2 separate regions of the Homo sapiens genome follow, and region 1 is linked to region 2. Evidence: fine-mapped expression QTL. A gene starts in region 2. The other region holds a variant in brackets. All regions are shown on one strand. Distances are from middle to middle.

Region 1 (12,237 bases), 65 kb before region 2:
CAAGAGTGGTCTGACAAACATAATTTTCCTAACAAAAACATAAACTTTAAAATATACCTGTGAACTATCTGTGTACAAGTAGTGACTATGAGCTACAAAATCTTTCAACAAGTTGTCAATGCCAGATAAAATATCAGAGAAGAACATCTGCAGGACATACGAGTTAAAATGAAACTATTATCGGTTTTTAAAACATGGTCAGTAATTTATCAGAGCTGTTGCTTTCATTATTAAGATAATTAGGTAATTTATTAAAATAGACATTTAACCCAAACATTCATTTGTACAAGTAACTTCAGCTTCCTACATGGTAAAATACAAAAGGGCATTTTCTAATAATTATTCTTCATAATATGTACAACATATTCACACTGTATGTAATTTCAAAACTAGAGAAAGCTTAAACTGCTGACAAGGTTTTCACCAGTTTGATGTCTGATGTCATTAAACATACTTATTAAAAAATGATAATGCTTACCTTCATTCAGGTATGTTTTAAAAATTTCTCTAAGTTATTATTTTATAAACAATTACTACAGATAAATGAATATGAAAGGTAATATGAAAACTGAGTAGCGAGCACACATCTAGCTGTCTAAAGAAAGAACAGTATTACCACTATTATTGATAGCTGGAAGTTTCAGGAGAAATTAAGCTGAACAGCATCTCTGGTCATGGTCTGGCTTAAGTTCCCCTGAGAGTTCTCAATTCTTAAATATGAACAGATAATCACTGCATAAGATAAGAGTCTCTCAACCAAGTACTGCTGAATCCTAAGCCTTTACAGAATTCTGTGGTGTAAATCAGTTTAGTTCTTAGAGTTCTCCACTACTAGCTTAGTATTGACTTTATTAGGGGATATCAAGTTCCCTCCCTCCCTTCCTTCCTTCCTTCCCTCCTTCCCACTTTCCCCCTTACAAAATGTTTAGCTATTGTCTCCTCTCCTATTATTCCCAACCTCGTGGGTTTGCGCTTTAAAAATAAATCCTTTCGAAAATTTTCTCCCATTTTGTAGGTTGCCTGTTCACTCTGATGGTAGTTTCTTTTGCTGTACAGAAGCTCTTTAGTTTAATGAGATCCCATTTGTCAATTTTGGCTTTTGTTGCCATTGCTTTTGGTGTTTTAGACATGAAGTCCTTGCCCATGCCTATGTCCTGAATGGTATTGCCTAGGTTTTCTTCTAGGGTTTTTATGGTTTTAGGTCTAACGTTTAAGTCTTTAATCCATCTTGAATTGATTTTTGTATAAGGTGTAAGGAAGGGATCCAGTTTCAGCTTTCTACATATGGCTAGCCAGTTTTCCCAGCACCATTTATTAAATAGGGAATCCTTTCCCCATTGCTTGTTTTTCTCAGGTTTGTCAAAGATCAGATAGTTGTAGATATGCGGCATTATTTCTGAGGGCTCTGTTCTGTTCCATTGATCTATATCTCTTTTTTGGTACCAGTACCATGCTGTTTTGGTTACTGTAGCCTTGTAGTATAGTTTGAAGTCAAGTAGGGTGATGCCTCCAGCTTTGTTCTTTTTGCTTAGGATTGACTTGGCGATGCGGGCTCTTTTTTGGTTCCATATGAACTTTAAAGTAGTTTTTTCCAATTCTGTGAAGAAAGGCATTGGTAGCTTGATGGGGATGGCATTGAATCTGTAAATTACCTTGGGCAGTATAGCCATTTTCACGATATTGATTCTTCCTACCCATGAGCATGGGATGTTCTTCCATTTGTTTGTATCCTGTTTTATTTCCTTGAGCAGTGGTTTGTAGTTCTCCTTGAAGAGGTCCTTCACATCCCTTGTAAGTTGGATTCCTAGGTATTTTATTCTCTTTGAAGCAATTGTGAATGGGAGTTCACTCATGATTTGGCTCTCTGTTTGTCTGTTGCTGGTGTATAAGAATGCTTGTGATTTTTGTACATTGATTTTGTATCCTGAGACTTTGCTGAAGTTGCTTATCAGCTTAAGGAGATTTTGGGCTGAGACAATGGGGTTTTCTAGATATACAATCATGTCGTCTGCAAAGAGGAACAATTTGACTTCCTCTTTTCCTAACTGAATACCCTTTATTTCCTTCTCCTGCCTAATTGCCCTGGCCAGAACTTCCAACAGTATGTTGAATAGGAGTGATGAGAGAGGGCATCCCTGTCTTGTGCCAGTTTTCAAAGGGAATGCTTCCAGTTTTTGCCCATTCAGTATGATATTGGCTGTGGGTTTGTCATAGATAGCTCTTATTATTTTGAAATACGTCCCATCAATACCTAATTTATTGAGAGTTTTTAGCATGAAGGGTTGTTGAATTTTGTCAAAGGCCTTTTCTGCATCTATTGAGATAATCATGTGGTTTTTGTCTTTGGCAACCTACTCATCTGACAAAGGGCTAATATCCAGAATCTACAATGAACTCAAACAAATTTACAAGAAAAAAACAAACAACCCCATCAAAAAGTGGGCAAAGGACATGAACAGACACTTCTCAAAAGAAGACATTTATGCAGCCAAAAAACACATGAAAAAATGCTCATCATCACTGGCCATCAGAGAAGTGCAAATCAAAACCACAATGAGATACCATCTCACACCAGTTAGAATGGCAGTCATTAAAAAGTCAGGAAACAACAGGTGCTGGAGAGGATGTGGAGAAATAGGAACACTTTTACACTGTTGGTGGGACTATAAAGTAGTTCAACCATTGTGGAAGTCAGTGTGGCGATTCCTCAGGGATCTAGAACTAGAAATACCATTTGACCCAGCCATCCCATTACTGGGTATATACCCAAAGGACTATAAATCATGCTGCTATAAAGACACATGCACACGTATGTTTATTGCGGCACTATTCACAATAGCAAAGACTTGGAAGCAACCCAAATGTCCAACAATGATAGACTGGGTTAAGAAAATGTGGCACATATACACCATGGAATACTATGCAGCCATAAAAAATGATGAGTTCATGTCCTTTGTAGGGACATGGATGAAATTGGAAATCATCATTCTCAGTAAACTATCACAAGAACAAAAAACCAAACACTGCATATTCTCACTCATAGGTGGGAATTGAACAATGAGATCACATGGACACAGGAAGGGGAACATCACACTCTGGGGACTGTTGTGGGGTGGGGGAAGGGGGGAGGGATAGCATTGGGAGATATACCTAATGCTAGATAACGAGTTAGTGGGTGCAGTGCACCAGCATGGCACATGTATACATAGGTAACTAACCTGCACAATGTGCACATGTACCCTAAAACTTAAAGTATAATAATAAAAGGAAAAAAATAAAAATAAAATAGAACAAAAATAAATCCTTTCATGACAGTTTTAGAGGGATTTGAGGATAGAGCAAGATCAGATGAGTGTTTTCATCTGCCACCTTCAATGACAGTGTAATATTCATAAAATCAAAAATTAACCATTGAAATAAATATAGTTTATTTCAAAATTTTGGATATTGCGAACAATACTTCAATGACCATTTTATGCACACTTGCTCCTAGAGAATGGTTTCCATGGGAATGTAAAAAGATAAGACCATTCTGAAAACAATTCAGCAAGGACTATCAAAATCAGAAACACACATGACCCAGGAATTTAGAGGCTATACGTATTTACGCATTTGATGGATATTGCTAAGCTGTCCTCTAGAAAGGCCGTATCAATTCACTTTCTCATTGACAGTGCAATAAGTCTGTTTCCTTACATCTTTCTAACACTGGCTATATATTAGTTTTTAAAGGTTATTATCAAACCAATTAGTAAAAGAATGTCTATTTTGCTTTATTAGAGAGGTTGAACAGTTTTCTTTGTTTACTAGATATTTATATTAATTCTGTGAGGTATCTATCTACATTCTTTGCCTATTTTTCTACTAGATTATCTTTTCCTTATTATCTTTGTAGGGAATTTTTATATATTAATAATTTACATTAACCTTTTGTCTGATTATAAACTGTTTTCTCCCTATTAGTCTTTTTTAATAGGGCCTTTTACCATCCAGAAACTTCACATTTTTATGTTGTAAAATCCTCTATGGCGTCATGATGTTTGGAGAATCTTACCCTTCTGAAAGATTACAAAAATAGTCCCCCATTTTTCCAGTTGAAATAAGGTACTCTATAATAGTCTTTTGCATGTTCTTCCACCCCAGTATCCACAATCCTGGATTGTGAAATTAGAATTTTTCAGAGCAAACAGGGAGCATGTTGGAACCATATATCTTTTTGGAGGAATACTCTCTGGAAATGCAGGAAAAAAGCATTTATACAATTTTCAGACATCTGACCTACACCAAGAAAAGATGGGTCAGAATAGATGAGTCATTTTGCAAATTATAGGAATTTTGTAACAAAACAGTTAAAAGAGCATCTATACTGTAATTCACTGTTGGCTAATCATGTTCTCTCTGGTTTCACAGAAGCTTGTATGCATTTCTTATCCTTGCTACTAGATTACTCTAGTCTCTTAAAGGCTAGAGTAATTTGAGTAATTGCAGCTGATCCAAAATCTCTCTTAAAGGCAAGAATGCTATCTTATTCAGCCTGTGTTCATTATAGCACCTACTAAAAGTCCTTGGATATAAAAGATTCTAAAATATTTTATTATGTGAATATCTTGTAGAAATAAAATTAAAATTAAATTATTTTAAAGACAATATACTTTCTAAAAAGATAACAAACATAATAATCATTAACAATAATAATAATAATAATAATACCACCATCTAGGATGTATTGCATACTTACTAAGTGTCAGGTACTATGTACTATATGCTAAGTCCTTCATATACATTCTTCCAACTAAGAACACAGACTGTAGGTAAATTTTATCACATACATAATATAAAAAAATACCTTCCTGGCCGAGCACGGTGGCTCATGCCTGTAATCCCAGCACTTTGGGAGGCTGAGGCGGGCAGATCACCTGAGATTGGGAGTTCGAGACCAGCCTGACCAACATGGAGAAACCCTGCCTCTACTGAAAATACAACATCAGCCAGGTGTGGTGGCGCATGCCTGTGATCCCAGTTACTCAGGAGGCTGAGGCAGGAGCATCATTTGAACCCGGGAGGTGGAGGCTGCGGTGAGCCAAGATCACGCCATTGCACTCCAGCCTGGGTAACAAGAGTGAAACCCCGTCTCAAAAAAACAAACAAAAACCCTTCCTGCTGCTGGAGTGGAGAGTCATATTTTGCTCACTTCCAGTATTGTTTTACCTTCATTTTCTTTGAGAAAATTTCTGCAAAAGGATCTAAGTTGATCTTAATTCTCTCTTTATAATGTAAATATTTACAAAGTAATTTTTTTGAAGGCTTGGATAGTAGAAAAACTTAAGTTTCTATTTATGTACCTCATGTAAACCCAATTCCAATTTCATCACCATTTCAGAAAGATGACGATTTTCTAATTTGAGTGACTCCAGCTGATCCAAAATCTCCTGAAAAGGGGAAAACAGAAAAAAATAAATATAACATGTAAATCACATGCATCTTACAAAATTTTTCCACATGGAATTTTCATTAGGCTAAGTCATATTCTTCATTTATATATATATACATATACATATTTATATATATATATACATATATATATGTACGTGTGTGTGT[GTATATATATATATA/A]TATATATATATATATATGGACTTTCTAAAAAGATTTTTAAGATGTTATTAAGGTGAATGAACATGAATGGGATGAAGATATCATTCTAATAGGATAAATCAGGTGACAAAGCAGCAAAGTTTCAATCCACTGAACCCCTTAAATCCCTACCCATTCTCCTGTGCTGGCCTCCTCCAATTTGGCTTCTACCTGCAACGTCACATGGAATTGTACTTTATTCACAAAATAACAACTTATATTCAGTTCTCATTCCCCTCAGCTTTTGTGCTTGACCATTCCCATTTGAAAATATTCCTTCTTTCCTTGGCTTGGCAAAAACTATCTGATTTCCCTCCTCACTGCTCCTTTTTTTAAGCTTCATTCCAACATCTTTTTTACACTAAATGAGAAGTATCCTAAGTTTGGTTTGAGTCACTTCTCTTCTTACGCTATGCTTTCTCACTATAATCATTAAGTCTCTCAGGGGGTTTCAAATGTCACCATGAAGAAAGGACAGCCACAGCTAAATGCCTAATCCTGATTTTAATCTTCAACTCCAGGCCTTCTGTGGAATTGACTATTACCCATACAAAATTCCAGCCTTTATTCCAAACAAATGTGTCAAACCAATGTCCTCTCCACCAGTTTCCCCAGTCTGTGTACTTTTCACACAAATTCATCATCCTTCACCAAACTTGCTCCCTGTCTTTTCTCTATTTCATTAAAAAGCATCACTTTCCATCAGTTGCCTAAGTTTAAATCCTGTGGAGCACCATTCCTTAACTCTGCCTACCTCACCTTCCCTGCCAATCAAATACAATGCCCAGTCATTTTTACCAGCCCAGTATCTCCAGAATTCATCCATTTCCCTCTGCCTCCCTTGCCCACTGCTCAGGCCACCATCTTACCACTGTAACAGCATCTGGGTGCTCTGTCTCCCTGCTTATTCTCCATTTAAGGACCACTGAATTTTACTCCTGCTTGCAGCCATTCCCTACTGACCTCAAGGTCACAGTATAACTCCTTTACGTGGCTAACGTAGCCCTTCAGCAGCCAGTCCCTGCTTTCCAGTCTCATACCTTCCACTCATCCCACTTGTACTCTAGTTTCAACCACAGCAAGCGTGTTTCTACTCTCTCTTAGAGACCTCTGTATTTTCCTGTGCCTGAAACACTTTTCCTCCCCATCACCCAGCTTGCTCCTAACTTAGCTTTGCTATCACACCTTCTGGAAGGCCTTTGCAGCGAGTGGTCTAGATTCAGGCTGCTTGTGATCTCTAGTGACTCTCACCATACACCACTGATACAGTCACTTTACTTGTCTGTGTCTACTCTCACCTCCCCACCATGCTCACTAAACTCTTTGCTAGCCAGCATACTCTCAGCTCAAAGCAGGTATCTAATAAAAATTCACTGAATTAAATATTATGAAAATTATGTCTTTAATCAACTCCATCTTTAAAACAAATTTCAAATTTAAAAAAGGTTTTGTTCAGGCTTCACCTTATGCTCTACTGCTTTGTCTTCTGCCTTTTGCATCTCTGCTCTGAGTCGCTTTTCCATGTCTGAGGAAGAACCTTTGGTGGAAGCAATAGTGATATCTCGCTGATGTAACTCCTGAGTTAGATGGGAGATTTCCATCTTCATTCCTTCTAGTGCAGAACTGTAACTTTGTTCACCCTGTAAAATCTGTTCTTTCAACTATAAAGAAGCAGAAAAGAAAGCACCAAAAGTTAAGAGAAAGCATTTAGATAGAATAATATGTTACTAGCTAATAAAATAAAAGTTCACCTTATCTCAAGACATTAAATTTCTCTTAAATTAAATCTGCAGAAAAATTAGCAATTTACCAAGTTGCATATCTGTACTGAAGGTCAGGTGGTTATACCTACAATCATTTATTATACCTCAAAACAGGGAGAGATGGGTTATTCAAGTGCTGAGGACCAGAATCAAGGTCCATGCACACAATTTAGAGGAGAGTACTTGTGACCTTCATTCTTTTTTTTAGTTGTGAATCTAAAAGTTTTGCTCATATGGTATCTTAGTCCACAGGATAACAAATAGAACAAGAGGAAGTAAGGAACTAGAAGTAATCTTAAAGAAGTAACAAAAAATACAAATCAAACAAATAGGACAGTTAGGGCCCATTCATATAGACACAAACAGCTCTGCATACCTCAATAGCTGACAAGGATACTAACTACATCATAGCACAGGAGACAATACATAAATACTATCTTTAGGCAATAAGAAAATATTAAGTGACAGTTCATATTTTTTTGCAAGCAACAGAGTGTATGTCTTTTAGAAAACTTTTCATCAAAACATGTTTAAAATAAAGTTTTTGAGTTCAAAGGGGACAGCCTTCAATTATCTTAAAAATATTTATTGGGCATCAGGGGCGATGCCAAAGAAAGAAGGCACTTTCCCTATGCACATTCCACAAACTCTTCCACTCCTAAATATCAAGTGGTCCCTTGAACTACATTTTTTTCTCATTAAAAATAACCCCTATAATCTCCCAATCCACAGCTTTGTCCATAAACACATACAATTTTGCAATCCTAGGTATGCAGATTTTTACCTTCTTAATCTCTGCTTTGTATTCATTGTTATGTGCTTCCATCCTCTTCAGTTCTTCATATTTTTCCATTAGTTCTTGGCTCAGCTGTTTACACGTTGCACTCACAGATTCCAAACTGTATGACAAAAATAAGATCCCATACTTAAAACCAAAATCCTGAAACCTATAAATTGGACTATCTAATTTACATTCTTGATATCCAAAAAATATCCAGCCAATATCTTAAACATCACCTCAGTCATTTAAAATATTACTAAAAAGCCAATCAATAAAAAAACTGTGATAAAAATGTAAACTGTTGTCCCAACGTCAAAAATAATAAACTTAATTTTAGTCAAACGGAAGAGTACACATATACTTCAATAATAACAAAGACTATCTCAAGTACTCCAAGTATTCCAAAAGGAATAAAGCAGAAAATATGTGTGTGTATGCATGTTTGTGTATTTAACATGTAGATAAAAGTAAGAAAATACTTACTGGTTTCCAAAACCAGAAATAAATGTAAAAACAAAAAATGTATTACTTAAAGATAACCTAAAAAGTGTAAAATGATATTTCTCTTGTTGTTTGCCTAAAGGTTAACAGTTCATGTTAAAAGCAATTTTATCTTTTACATACAGAAAATGTCAGTGTACAAATGATCATGATTCATGTGTTTAAAACAAGATATCACACTCTTCCCAATCAAAAAGTTGAGAGGTTATGAAAAACCAAAAAAAATTCTATAAGTACGACAATGACAAGTGTTTAGGTGGGTATGGTATAGCATTAGTCAGGATTCAATTAACACCCAAGGAAGTAACAACACCACAGCAGAACAAAAAGGATCACCATGTGTCAACTGTTACCCCTTCCTACCCTGCTTCTGAGGTGGCAAGGAGGAAAACCTAAGTGAAGGGCTGCTAAACAGGTGAAAGGTAAAGAAGTAGAGTCAGTATAGACAACTCTTTTGAAGAATTTGGTCTTAAAGAGAAGTACAGAAATGTGGAAATAACTTGACGGAGACATAGGATTAAGGGATGGTTTTTCCCCCAGATGGGTGATGTTACAGCGTATTTTATACCAGTGGATAGATTCAGCAGACAGAAAGAACTTGATGATGCAGAAGAGAAAGGATATAACTACAGAAAAAGGACACAAGTGGAGTGGTTGGTCTTAGAAGTGCAGAAAGGCACAGGTATGGGCAGACTGGTAGATTTGATGACAGAAAGATTAAGAGGTTCTCCTTTAATTGCTTCTGTCTTCTCAATGAAATAAGAACTTAGGGCAGGGTGCGGTGACTCATGCCTGTAATCCCAGCACTTTGGGAGGCCAAGGCAGGTGGATCACCTGAGGTCAGGAGTTCAAGACCAGCCTGGCCAACATGGTGAAACACCGTCTCTACAAAAATATAAAAATTAGCCAGGCATGGTGGTGCACGCCTGTAATCTCAGCTACTCAGGAGGCTGGGGCAGAAGAATCAATTGAACCGGGAGGCGGAGGTTGCAGTGAGCTGAGATTGTGCCATTGCACTCCAGTCTGGGTGACAGAGCGGACTCCGTCTCAAAAAAAAAAAAAAAGAAATAAGAACTTAGGCCATTTGTGGATACTAGAAAAAAATCTTATTTTTTTTACTATGACTATTACATTCATTTACAATATGATGATCAAAAATTCATTTTAACAACTTGAAATTTTTGAAATGTGTGTATAATTATGTACCTGCCTTCAAGACAAGTCACCTCTGCCTGCAGAAGGTCCTCACTAGTATGGGTAAAATTCAACTGGGAGAGCACACTGTCTAAGTCCCCCTGCCCTTGAGAGGTGTACTTCTTTTCTGCCAGAGATTCTTCCCGTGGCCTATGGAAAGACATAGGATGATTGTTAACGCCTTTATCTCTGCAAACAAAAATAATGCTCATCTAGTCTGTGTTTCCCCATCATTTTTGGTAACCTCTTTGGAACTCTTCAAGTTTGTCTCCTGCTTTATAAAAAGAATATTGGGAGAGGAAAGAAAGAGTCAAGAGATGCTGATACTTCAAAAAGTAGCAATTTACTCCCTTCTTAACTGGGATTTGGCCTTTTTTCAAGGGAAAAAGACAAAATGGCAAAATCACTTCAGTGACACTTGAAACCCTGTACCAAAAAAACTGAAAAGTTACAGGAGAATTCTGGCAAAAATAAAAGTGTGCATCAGACTTAAATCAAGCAAGAGGGCTAGCCCAATGGCTGGCTGCTATTAATGATAAGCAGCTACTAATCACAACTTATTCCACCAACAAAGTGAGGCCTCCAGGAGACATGGATGACAATTCCCTGCACATTTGGATTTTCACCAAGCATGCAAACTGACCTTGGTTTCTAACTTTCTAAACATGAGAGTCTCTGTTAGGGACCCTAACTGGTGGCAGAAGAAAATTAACCACACAAAATTTTATAACACTTTAAAAACCTAACTCAGAAGTTAAAGCCAATTAAGAAAATCCACAATATGATCAAACATAAAATTATGAATATGCAATATGAAAACTAGTGCTTGGATGGGCGTGGCAGCTCACACCTGTAATCCCAGCACTTTGGGAGGCTGAGGTGGGCAGATCACCTGAGGTTAGGAATTTAAGACCGGCCTAGCCAACATGATGAATGCCCGTCTCTAAAAATACAAAAAACTAGCCAGGTGTGGTAGCATGCACCTGTAGTCCCAGCTACTTGGGAGGCTGAGCCTGGAGAATGGCTTGAACCTCGGAGGTTGAGGTTGCAGTGAGCTGAGATTGCACCACTGCACTCCAGTCTGGGCAACAGGAGACTATCTGAAAATAAAATAAAAATAAAAATAAAAATAAGCCTAGTGCTTAATACCTAGTCATTAAGTGGCTAAGATGAATAATATTTAAGATTAAATTTACCTTATAGCTTCTACAGCATGTTGAGTGTTAGTTGCCTTTACTTTTTCTTGTAACTTCTCCTTTTGTATTCTGGCCTCATGTATGAGATTTTCTTGAGACTGAAGAGCTGCCTTCAATTCTCTCTTTTCTTCCTGCAGAGCCTGCAAAAAAGTCAAATATGATTATAATTTTCCTTCTTTTTAATTCCTGCAGAACCTGCAAAATACTCAGAAATTTCTAAGCCAGCTATTATTACAATTTTTCTATTTCACGAGAAGCCAGGAAGTCAGACTATAAGTTACGTAACAATATTACAATATTGTAAATATTGTAATAAAGTCACAATATTAGTAAAACTATCAATATCTGATCCATCATTTATAAAGTAGGGAAGAAAGTATGGATTGTAGAACCTAGTTCTAGCTTAATAACACTCTCTTAAAATACTCATACACACACTTCCCCCAATTATAGTGATTTTAAAACATACCTCTAATAGTTTTTCAGATTCCCTCAATTTTTCTTCTTTTTGCTGCTGCTCCTGTAGGACAGTCATACTGGTTCCAACCAAGTCATTGACCCTCATGGTGAGGCGCTCTATTTCCAACTCATTGGCACAGATAGTGTCATTAGCCCGCTCCAGTTTACTGCTTAAGTGTTGAATTTCTGATTGGCTAGAAAGTTCCACAGACTCTAATTTCTGTTTCCGATTGACAAGCTGAGCCTAGAAACACAGACTATCAATCAATAGGTAAAAGGGAAATGATAAAATAATCAATGAATAAGACTAAAATGAAACTATTATTTCCATAAAAACATAAAGCATTGGCTCACTAAAATATATATATATATATTGCGAAGGGGTAAGAAAGAATTGAGAGGCTGGGAGTGGTGGCTCACGCCTGTAATCCTAACACTATGGGAGGCTGAGGCAGGCAGATCGCTTGAGCTCAGGAGTTCGAGATCAGCCTGGAAACATGGCGAAACCCTGTCTTTATAAAAAATACAAAAATTGGCCGGGTGCAGTGGATCACGCCTGTAATCCCGCACTTTGAGAGGCTGAGGTGGGCGGATCATGAGGTCAGGAGATTGAGACCATCCTTGCCAACATGGTGAAACCCGTCTCTACTAAAAATACAAAAATTAGCTGGGCGTGGTGGCGCGTGCCTGTAATCCCAGCTACTCGGGATCG
Region 2 (12,237 bases):
GGGAGGCGGAGCTTGCAGTGAGTCAAGATCGCGCCACTGCACTCCAGCCTGGGCGACAGAGCAAAACTCCGTCTCAAAAAAAAAAAAAAAAAAAAAGAATACAAATAGAATGTCTTATAATAGGCAAATCTTTGAAATTCATTAACATAGACTTTATGAGCTAGAAAGCACTTCAGGCCTCTAATTTAACTTTATCATTTTACAGATCAGGAAAAATATCATAGTATATGCCCAAGACCAAATTATTCACAAAATGGGACACAGGAAGAAAATAAAAACTCCAGACAGAATTATGAATAAATGTGTACATACTAAGAGAAGGGATATGCCTAACCTTCAAGTCTAAAGGAGGATAACAATGCTCTCTGTCCCTGTACCTGCCTTGGTGTCGTTTTCATTACAAAGCTCTATGATTGTGTCAGATATACCATGGCCAGTAAACTATGGCTGTTCCGATGAACAATCAGTATTACTAAGCATTTTCCAGAAAGGCTCCTAATTAAACTGATACCAGTAAATAAGGTATTAGAGAAACTTTTCAAAATATTAAAGTTTTTAAAAAATTGTCCAAACTATAGTTCAAAATCCAGGAAGAACAATGAGAAAGTCTGAGAAATAGGAGTACATAAAAACAAACTTTTATATGAAAAAGTGCCATAAGCAAAGTTAACTGACAAATGACAACAGTACCTGAAAGTTTTACCACAAACGGTTAATTACCCAAATATATAAGGAGCTTATAAAAGATTAGGCAAAAAATCTATAGAAACATGGGCGAGAGGTATAAACAAGCAATGCACAGAAAAATACAAATGACAGTAAAAATATGAAAAGATGTTCAACCTTGCTCATAAGAGAAATACAAATTAAAACTACAGTAAGTTACCCTTTCTTCTGTACCAGATTAACCAAAAATTAAATGTTTGATAATACACTCTGATGACAAGGCTGTGGGACAACAGGCACTCATATACATAATAGGTAGGAATGCAAAATGAACACAACTGCTATAGAGGAGACTTTGGTAATACCTAACAACTGATATATGCATTTACCCTTTTATCCAACAACGCTACTTTTAAGAATCTATCCCACAGGCTCATTGGCAAAAATGCAAAACAACATATCCACAGGGATATTCACTGCATGACTATTTGTAATAGCAGAAAATAACACAAGTGTCTATCAAGAGGGGACGAATTAAATATTCATCCACCAATGGAGTACTACGAAACTGTAAAAAGGAATAACAATCTCTACATACTCCTAAGGAGGGGATCTACAGGACATATATCACTAGGTGAAAAACCCAAGATGGAAAACAGTATACATAATAGCACATTTTACCTAAGAAAGAAAGGTATGTTTGTCCATGTAGATTTGCTTTTAGGTATGTGTTTTTTTAATGGAAGGATAGACTCAAAACTAGTAAAAACAGTATCAGTAAGGAAGGAAAATAAGCAGAGTGGAAGAAACAGAGATGAAAGCTAAATTGTTTTATGGGTACTTGTTTTATGGGAATTATGCTAAGGTTTTGCATATAATAAAACAAATCAAAATGGGGAAAAAAGCAGTACTGAAAAATTGGAAACAAAATAAAATAAATCAACTACCAACTAGATATCAACTTGATAGGCTAACTATACAATAAATTACTTCATATGCCTTTAAATACAATAATTTTACTATACACTTTCCTAGAGACATATAAAATAAGGATAAAAGACAGTTGCAAAGAAATCCTAAGCACTATTCAGGAATCATATTGATAATAAAATAGCCTGTTAACTTGAAACCATTATATATAACATAGGATGAGGAAAAAAAACTAATTCTATTAATGGCACTAGGCACCAAGACTCAGCAAAAAAGATACAAACATAAATCCAACGTGTGAAAAAACTGTAAAATTAAGTTTAAATTTTGGAAATTTAAATGTTAAATGTTGGAAACAATGCGAATTTTGCATATTTGTGTTTTTTTTAATATATAATATTTCCTAACTCTGGCCACCATAAATCCTAGAACTAACGACTAACCTAGTAGCAAGAACACCTCTCCCACCTAGGTAAGACTGTGGTCTCCAAATACTATCTCAGACTCAAAAGAACCACGGCTCCTTGAAGACCAGAAATCTATAAATGAGCCAGGAAAATTATTTACCAGAAAGCAAGGAAATTACCAAAGCTATTGGTCATATCAAATGGAATAGGAGCCAACTTTAAGGAGCTCCCACTGGCCAAAGATGAAACAATTTGAGTATTAAAAACACAACTGCCATATGTTGAAACAGTTTAAATATAAAGTCTATAAGTTCATGATTATAGGTTTACAAAAAGGCAAAAACCCTCATGGTTACCTTTGGAGGCTGCTAGGCCACCAACTCATTACTGTGGTCTGAAAATAGAGGCAAAGAATTAAGCATTTTTCTTGCCTTTCCTGTACAAATTGTATTTCAGGGTAGTCAAACAGCTGGAAAGGGAAAGTTCTTCATAAAAGACTCTCAGTTGATAAATATTGAAGAAATAATAGAATTAGATAATCACCACGTTGCAACCTCTAATGCAATAACGGATACAGGCAATATAACCCCACAAAAGGACTTCACCACTAAGTGAAAGAGTCTTGGGGAATTTCACTATGGGTGGATGGAGCTAACTACACCTAAACCCAATATAATGTTTAATGTTAACATCATAAAAAAAGAAAACAACTCAGACACTGCTTCCCTGATAATTAATGAAATAGGAAGTATACTGCATTACCTATGAAATTATCTGTCCAACCCCCCCAACTATCCCACCAAAAAACAAAACAAAAACAAATATAAGGGTGAAATCTCATCAGGCTTCTAGAGCAGTGCTGTTCAATACAACTTTCTGCAATTATGAAAATATTTTATAACTGCACTGTTCAAAAAGCAGCCACCAGGCAATCTGTAGCTACCGAGCACTTGAAATGTGGCTAATGCAAGTTAGGAACTGAATTTTTTTTTTTTTTTTTTTTTTGAGACAGTCTCGCTCCGTCACCCAGGCTGGAGTGCAGTGGCGTGATCTCGGCTCACTGCAACCTCCACCTCCCGGGTTCAAGCGATTCTCCTTCTCCTGCCTCAGCTTCCTTAGTAGCTGAGATTACAGGCGCATGCCACCACGCCCGGCTAATTTTTCATTTTTAGTAGAGACGGGGTTTCACCATGTTGGTCAGGCTGGTCTCGAACTCCTGACCTCGTGATCCACCCACCTCAGCCTCCCAAAGTGCTGGGATTACAGGCGTGAGCCACCGCGCCCAGCCTAGGAACTGAATTTTTAATTTTATTTCACTTTAATTAACTAGCCACTGCTGGCTGGTGGCTACAATACCGGACAGTGCAATTCTACATCTAACTACTGGTTTAGAGCAGTGGTCCCCAACCTTTTTGGCACCAGGGACCTGTTTCATGGAAGACAATTTCTCAACACCGACAGGGCGGAAATAACACATTTTGTAAATATCTTTTTGTTAAAATTCATATGAAATGTTTTGGGGGAGGAATGGCCAAACCACTTTTTTTTGTTTTTTGAGACCGAGTCTTGCACTCTTGCCTGGTCTGGAGAGCAATGGTGTGATCTCGGCTCACTGCAACCTCCGCCTCCCGGATTCACGTGATTCTCCTGCCTCAGCCTCCCGAGTAGCTGGGATTACAGGCGCACACCACCACACTCGGCTAATTTTATTGCATTTTCAGTAGAGACGGGGTTTCACTATGTTGGCCACACTGGTCTCAAACTCCTGACCTCATGCCCACCTCGGCCTCCCAAAGTGCTGGGATTACAGGCGTGAGTCACCGCGCCCGGCCAACCACTTCTTCAGTAATATGAATAATACACATGGACAGGGTTAGGGGCATGGTTTCAGGATGAAACTATTCCACCTCAGATCATCAGGCATTAGTCAGATTCTTATAAGTGTGCAACCTAGATTCCTTGCATGCGCAGTTTACAATAGGGTTCGTGCCCCTAGGAGAATCTAACCTCACGGCTGATCTGACAGGAGGCAGAGCTCAGGTGGTAGGTAATGCTCACTAGCCTGTCACTCACCTCCTGCTCTGTAGCCTGGTTCCTAACAGGCCACGGACTGGTACTGCTCTGCGGCCCCGGGTTTGGGGGCCCCTGGTTTAGAGGACACAAAGGCAACAGAGATACATGTTAAAGGATACTGTGCGATGCAATCTGCTAAATTTAGAACTGTAAGGAAAAATAGGGGCTAATCCCATAGCTATAACTATGAGGGAACAAATATAGATTAAAAGATGTCAAATGTGCATCACCCAAACACAATAGGCAGATCCCTGTGGGATTTTGGTTCAAACAAGCTAATTGTAAAAAGACATTTAAGAGACAGTTGAAGAAATCGTTATCTGACTGGATATTGACATTAGAGAATTTTTATTAATTTGTGTATGTGTAATGACAGTACTGTGGCTCTGTAAAACTGAAAAACCTAGCTCCTGATGGGGGCGGGGAGGCGGACTAAAATAACATAAAGATCGGAGATTCAGTTCCTGAAACCTTCTGTCAATGTTGGCTTTAGCTGAATTTCAAGTCAAGTTGACATTTTTTGAAAGCAGGAAGCAATGACAGAGTGGACTACTGATGCTGTCACCATCTGCCAGCACAACATAAATTAGAACAGAAAGGACTAAGCAAAGGTCTTCCACCATTTTAACGAGAGGAAATGGCATCAGTACAATCAACATACACAATTTTTACAAACAACTTTTAGATTTGCATCTACATACATTTTAAAAGGCAGTGTGCCTGTTTATAAATCTCTACTCTAATTTAGTTTCAGAGCTTTTTACTACCCTGATCACTGATAATGCCACAGTCAAAAAGCAAACTCAAAATAAAAATCAATCTAAAAATGGTACTGCATGCCAAATAAGAAAATATATACACTTTATCATTAAGCTACAGCTAACAGAAATCTAATCAACGATCCTTATGATTTCCTCGTATCTAAAAAATAAATGCAAGCACTTGAGGAACTGTATAAATACAGGGCATCTACCCTACAATACTGCTTTATTAAAATAATAAATTCTTTTAATAAGTTTAACCAGACATAAGGCTCAGGGAAAACTACTCTGTGCATATCAGCGTACGGTGCTGAAACTGTAAAAGACGACCTGTCTCTGACATCATACTCATCTTTACTCTCCTGATGTCGTAAGGGACGTAAGAAAAACCACATTATAAGCCTAAATGTACTGTCTTCAAGTATCTCCATGATTAAAGTGTTCCTAAGAAACCGTCCTTATTTCTTTCTATCCCTCATTTGTGTGCATGGAGCCGTTAGTTCAGGGTTCTCCAATTTCAGTCCACGATTTATGCCACATTTCCGTACCTCTTGTACTAACATAACCGTTTAAACCAACTCACTATTTTAAAAGCTGCCAACCTTAACATGCCACACTAAATGAGCGGGTCCCCTTGTGCCGTGAATGAAGTAGTCCCAACAGCGCTAGCTAGACAGCAGCCCTGGCAGGGAGGCCGCACTGGGGTCTCTCCGCTGAAAAGGAAGGTGGGTCCGCCGGGGAAGGTGAGTACTGGGCGCAGCTCGCTCGCCCACCTGGCCACTCTCCGAAGCGCCCCCAGCCACCTGGACTCCGAGGAAGGGCTGACCACCTGGCGGGGCCGAACCCCACGCCGGGCTGCGCCACGCCAGACTCCGCCAGTGTGCAGGGCATAGCGGGCCAGGCCGAGGGACTGGGCTTCGGGGCGGACCCAAGCCGGCGGGGACGCGCCTGGTGGTTCGCAGGCCGTTGCGCAAACCGGCCGCAAGCCATGAGGCCGCGAAGCCAGAATCACCAAGGCAGCCTGGGCCGCCTCCAGACCAGGACACGGCAGCCCCTTGCCCCTCCAACTTGCGCACCGGCGGTTACAGGGTTGCCGCAAGCACGCCCCTGAGCCTTCCCGCCGTTACCTCGGGCCGGCGCTGCGCACGCGCGCCACCGCTAAGCTTACGTCCAGCCTCTGTAGTCGGCGCGTTTGTTCCGCCCACTGCCCCCACACTTTTAATAATTGAAACAATGCCTTCTCCAGACTTCCCCTGCACGCGAGCAAATGAACTCACCCACATCCGGGAATCCGAGGAAAGCGAGTGCAGACACGTGATGCGGGGGAGGGGGGGGGGGCGTGGCAGGAGCAAGCGTCTGCCGCGGTGGCCGGGTGCCGGTAAGGGTTTCCAGCGCCCCCGGCCTAGGTTTTGGAGGCGCGGGAATGCGTTCGTTGCTCAGTGTCGGACTTCCCCCTATTCCCATCGGCCGAGGCTGTCACTTTACGCTCATAACCGTTTTTCTTTACTGCACTCGTGTCGGGAGGAAAGGGACTTGCGTGGCACCCCCAGACCTCCCCGTCTCCGCTTCCACGTTTGGTACATCCTGCCTGAGGCAGGAAGCCGCAGCTGAGGGACGGCCTGTCGTACGGTGCGGATGGTGGTGGCCTGCGAGGCTCATTTCTAGCAAGGAACAAGGCTTTCCCGCTTTGATTTTATAAATATTATGTTTACAAAGCTGTAATATATAGAAATTGATAAGACGTGTCCCTGTCCCTGGAAACGCAGGCACCGCGTGTTTGGAAAGACATTCATCTGGGCTGTTTGACAGACTCCCCAGTTGGTGCCATGCTCTGTGCTTAGGGAACTGTGAGACCCCTGGAGGGGTGGGTACCGGGACCGCACTCAGCCTGGGGTTTGGAGGCGGCCTCCTATAGGAAGCGACCTGGGACCTAAGATTTTTAGACTGACTGTGGGTTCACTGGAATAAAAAGGAAGAAACAAAGAGCATTGCAGGCATCGGGACTGTCACGTGAGTAAGAAAAGTTTGTTCAGGAAACAGTGGTCGTACTGGGTGACGAGTACTTGGGACGGTGGCTTTAATACACAAGATAATCAGTGTGCCCTGGGCATTGATTATCTTGATGCTTCCCATCCTTCCAGCCCCTTATGAGGGAAGGCACCTTCGCGCCTAATCCCGGAAATGGGATGTTGACCTTCAAGAGCTGACGCCTGCGTTTATCTTGAAAGGAAGAGTGGCATTAGTGATGTGGAAAAGGGGGTTTTAACTGTCAAGGCTGGAAAATGTGACAGGGTTGGAGGTGTTTGGAGAAGGGACAGGTGAAAAAGATTGAGACCAAATGTGGAAAGATCTACTAAGGAATCATGGGTACAAAATGTACACGTAACAGTTGGAGGCAATAATACCTGAGCAATTGACCACAAAGCTGACCTAGCTTGTTTAGTAGATTAAGTTAGGACAAGAAGCAAGAGTTCAAGGATAGAAGGCCTACTGAAGCTCGAGTGATTTGAGAAAACTTTACAAAGGTGGAAAATCTACGTGGGCCTCCGAAAGTCAGGTTTGGATCAGCTGAGGAAAGTGAGAAGGGTATCCCAGGAGACAGAGCAGCAAGGACAAAGGAGTAGCAGCAGGAAAGTGGGGAGCACTTGTAAGACAGGGACTTCAAAAGTATAACCAAAACTTCGTCTTGCTTTGAGTTATCCACTGGGTAGTACTCGGTTAATTATTGAGTACTGGATTAATTAAGCCCTCACCTGGCTCACCGGTGACAGAAGTAGCAGGGCGCATTTTGCTTAACTTTTGCCGAGATCCTTGTCATGGGGGTGTAAACCCTTTCCCACACCAATCTGTGTATAATTTTTGCCAAGGTGTTAGGGATATCTTGCAGTTATCCTATGGGGGACAGCTGTGAGCCTTTTTGGTTTTTTTTGTTTTTTTTTTTCCGAGACGGAATCTTGCTCTGTCGCCCAGGCTGGAGTGCAGTGGCGCGTGGCGCTATCTCGGCTCACTGCAAGCTCCGCCTCCCAGGTTCACGCCATTCTCCTGCCTCAGCCTCCCGAGTAGCTGGGACTACAGGCGCCTGCCACCATGCTCGGCTAATTTTTTGTATTTTTAGTAGAGACGAGGTTTCACCCTGTTAGCCAGGATGGTGTTGATCTCCTGACCTCGTGATCCGCCCACCTCGGTCTCCCAAAGTGCTGGATTACAGGCGCGAGCCACCGCGCCCGGCCCTGTGAGCCATTTTTACAAAAACTTCCACCTGCCTTGGCCCAAACCTCAGCGTTCTTAGGCACAGGAGCTCATGAACATACTGAGATAACACTAAACTGGACTATGCGAAGGGACCAACTACAGACCTGACACAAATCCTCAAGGCAAGACGATGTCTGAAGTTGAGCTTGTAAAGGAAATGGCTTCCTTCCTTAAAATATCACCCAGGCTGAGCTCTGAAAAAAGCACCTCCAGATGGTGGGTTCCACCCCGCTCCACCACCCCAAAATTGCTTATTGTGTGAGTCTCCATAGTCTCAGAAACTGAGAGTACCTTTGATGCCAGTGGCTTCCGGGCTTTTTGGATTGTCACTTGGTAGCAGGGAGCACCCATAGGATGATGCCTATGATGAGTCAGGGCCCAACCTTGGAAACAGGGAAATCCAGAAGTATCCTACAAGCTAGCCAGCCTTTTGGATTAGATTATAGCAGTTTCAGAGAAAAATGGGGAATCAGCCATGGTCAAGGAGCTAAATAAGCATCGTGACCATTTGGGCCAGAAATTGAAGGGAGTGTAGCGTTAAGAATTAGAGGAAGGAACCTCCGAGGAAGGAGCTACCCCAAAGGGAAGCAGAAACTGGAGAAACTTTAGCAGTATGAGGTTCTACCACTGGTGTTCACCTAGAAGTGCTTTATTCAGATCTCAGCCTGGGTACTATTTTAGGGAAGGAAGCCGTTTCCTTTACAGTATGTTCGTGTGACTCCTGTGCCTAAGAATGCTGAGGTTTGAGCCAGGGGCTAGAAAGGAAACTTAGCTGGCCATTATGAATCAGGGACTCATCAAAGGCATCACAAACAGGAAAAGGTGAATGTTCAAGTTAGAAGAGAAGAGCTACATTGAGATGCAACATATTAATATTTGAGGGCCTCGTTTAACGTGTTGCTCTCCTGTCACACTCTATGACACTGGTCTGTCAGCTGGGCTATGCCTGTCCAGTATACACTATAAAATATGTATCAGTTGGGGTTGGAGAGAGGAACTGTGATCAAAGTAGTCACCCGGCCCATATGAGAAAATGAACCTTTTCCCAAAAGGTGGCCCCAGACTAAAAAGCCTGGAGAATCCTAATAGTGGATTATACCATCTCTTCAGTCTTCGTGTTTAAGAAATAACCTCTTTGGCTTACAGATTTGACAAGATCAAAGCTGCAGGAAAATGGACAGTGAGGTTCAGAGAGATGGAAGGATCTTGGATTTGATTGATGATGCTTGGCGAGAAGACAAGCTGCCTTATGAGGATGTCGCAATACCACTGGTAGGTTATGATTTGAGCTGAGGATGGGTTAAAGGTATTGATCTGGCAGTAACTAGTGGAGGAGGGATATCAATGGAAGATAAACTAGTGTGGCAAAGAAATCAAAGCTGTGGAATTCTCTAACTCTAGAAGCTTCTGGAGAGCATCCAGTTGTATGTTTTATTTGAAGAAAAATGTGGTTCAGGGAGCTAACATGGCCAGGTCAGTTAGGAGTCATGCCAGGACTAGAGCCCCGATTTTCTGAGCCATGTTCTGTCCACCACACGAAAACCAGAGAAACCAAATAATGAGAGTTTAATGCGCAAGATGGGGAAGAACAAGAAGCAGCAGCATATGAGCTCTGTTTCTTACTTCCCTGCCTGTGGCTCATCAGTCTTTCAGCATTTTTAGAAACTTACATTCTTGGAGCATACACCTATCTTAGGTTCCCTGGAAAATATTCAGAAGATACCTGGGTATTCTTTTGCGTTTAGGCCAGTGGCCTTCTGGAATACTCTTTTCTTCCCCATCTTTGGAAAACTCTGCTGCAGGGAGTTTGTTAAACCTCATGTAATAAGTGATCCAAAAGTTTTGCTTATATAAATGTTTGTTTAAAATCCTATTTATGTCATAGAGGCCTAAAAAAGGGAAAACAGGACTGTTTTTCTTTAAAGCATGCCAGCTGCCCTGAGAAGAGTAGTTAGTATTGAATAAAATATAATTTATAGTTAGAATATCTGCTGTTGCTGTTTGCAAAGAAATAAAATAGTTCATCTGTATTTTCATTTACGAATAAGAGATAGTAATATGTTCAATGAATAATATACATATCAAATAAGTCATAGCTTAGTTCAAGCTTAGGAAAATAGTCAAAAGAGAGAGCATAATAAGAATTATAGATGTCATTTATTGAATACCAGTTTTATGCCATGGACTGAGGTTGGAAATATACATTATCTCTAATTCTTAAACAACCCTGTGAGGGAGGTGCTGTTATTCCCATTTTATAGGAAAAGAATAGGATCAGAAAGGGCAACTTGCCCAAAGTCTGGTAGCAGGTAAGTAGGGCTTCATATAACATATACCTAGGTCTGTGAAGTTCCAAATCCTGTCTTGTGAACTTCTGTTCATTCATTCATTTGACAAGCATTTTTTGAAGCCTACTGTGTGCCATAAGACTATGTGAACATAAGATACAGTTCCTCCTCCTGAGGGGTCTAGAAAGGCAACACTTATAGATAAGTAATTGTGATAATAAATATTCTAGGTGGGGGCATAAACAGCCACATCATATACGAAGTGGCTGATTGCCTGGTGGGCATCAGAAAGGCTTCTGAGAGAATGTCATGTTTAAGCTGGGTCATAAGGAAGGACCAGAAGTTTAGTGGAGGTAGACAAGGGTATTGCAGCAGAGGGGACAGATGTGTAAAGGCCCAGAGTTTTGAAAGGCTTTGGGACATGGTGAGTCATTCACTGTGGATGAAGAATACATTTGTCACATAAGTAGGCTGAAAAGTTGGGCTTGGATCAGATTGAGAGTGGTATTTGATATCACACTTAGACCTCATCCTCAGGAGATCCAGGAATGAATGGTCTTAAAAGCAAGACTGCTATGCTCAGATTTGGCTTTTGGAAAATCAGTTTAGCCAGCATTGTTAGAGATGGTGTGACATGGAGATAGGGGCAAGTGAGACCAATTGGCAAGCTGTTGTGGTCTAGGCAAGGGAGGAGGGCCTAAACAAAGTCAAGAAAATAAAGGAGACGTCCATTTCTGGAGAAGTTTATGGCTCAGATTGGAGAACATTTGGGTGGCAGGGGTGGAAGGAGGTTTCCCTGCTGACTTCCAGGCGAAGTTGGCTTGGCCCTGCTGCTAATCCACACCTTTCGCTTGTCTTGCGATTCTAAGGCAATGTGTATGCCAGTTAGGTTTTGCTGCATAACAAGTCACCCCAAAGCTTAGTGACTTAAAAGAGCAACTGTTTATTTCATGATTTTGTAGCTCAGCTGGGAGGGACTTCTAGTCTGCACCAGCTCAGCTGATCCCTGCCAGGCTTGCCTGTGTTGTGCAGTCAGCCAACAGACTCTGGAGGCTGGGTAATCTAGGACTGTCTCACATGTCTGGCAGTTAACAAGCTGTCTGCTGGGTGATGGGGTGACTATGCCATGGTCTCTGGTATCCAGCAGGCTAGCCCAGACTTCTCAATCTCAGGGTTCCAAGAGCAACCTGAGAGGAAACGGCAGAGCTTCTTGGAGCTTAGGCCAAGAACTGGCCCACTGGCATGACAGCTTCATTCTGTTGGCCAAAACAACTCACAGGGCCAGTCCAAATCCAAGATTGGGGAAATCAGTTTCACCTTTTGATAAGAGTAGCTGCAAAGAACTAAGGGCATTTTACAGTACACCATAATGGGTGGCTGGGTTTATGATACTTTTGTTTTTGTTTTCCAGGCATATATGCCATTTTATGTGTTGGCATGTATTGCAAGGGACAGTAGATACCAAATGAAAGACACATTATTTTAGAAAGCATACCACAGATAGGATGAAATTAAGCAACGTTGTCTGCTTCTGAATTAAAGAATTCATTAACCAAGGACCTATTTATTCTTTGTCATCTATAAGTAATTATTAGGACTGAACTTTCTTTTTAAGTTTAAGATAATATATTATTGCGTTACAATAAATGATAGCTCTTCTCAATCTGTTCAAGTATGTTTGAATCTGTCTTGTAGAACAAGATGTATGTGATTCAAATATAGATAAGTAAATATCATTTAATATATATTGAGCATAATTTTAGAGGGGAAAACATATTCACATACTACAAATTAGAATCCAGTGGAAAATTTTAAGTCTGGATATCGCATAACAGTTTGCTAACCATAAAACAAAACACA

What was found.
Region 1: its variant is fine-mapped to the expression of CEP63 in whole blood (INTERVAL, PIP 0.98).

The regions. Positions count from the first base shown.
Region 1 is chr3:134,545,118-134,557,354 of GRCh38, reverse strand. CEP63 (centrosomal protein 63) reads right to left here. Exons shown (of 15, transcript NM_001353108.3): 7 at 11,536-11,769; 8 at 11,067-11,206; 9 at 9,883-10,020; 10 at 8,179-8,293; 11 at 7,095-7,292; 12 at 5,343-5,429. Among named protein-coding and RNA genes, the nearest start is that of CEP63, 65 kb to the right of the region's middle. The variant GTATATATATATATA/A (reference allele first, on the strand shown) is at 5,599.
Region 2 is chr3:134,479,930-134,492,166 of GRCh38, reverse strand. It overlaps CEP63 (centrosomal protein 63), which reads right to left and starts at 6,110. Exons shown (of 15, transcript NM_001353108.3): 1 at 5,965-6,110. ANAPC13 (anaphase promoting complex subunit 13) reads left to right here and starts at 6,182. Exons shown (of 3, transcript NM_015391.4): 1 at 6,182-6,215; 2 at 9,236-9,361. The coding sequence starts at 9,263. RefSeq lists enhancers at 5,178-5,996, 6,088-6,197, 6,278-6,377, 6,408-6,527.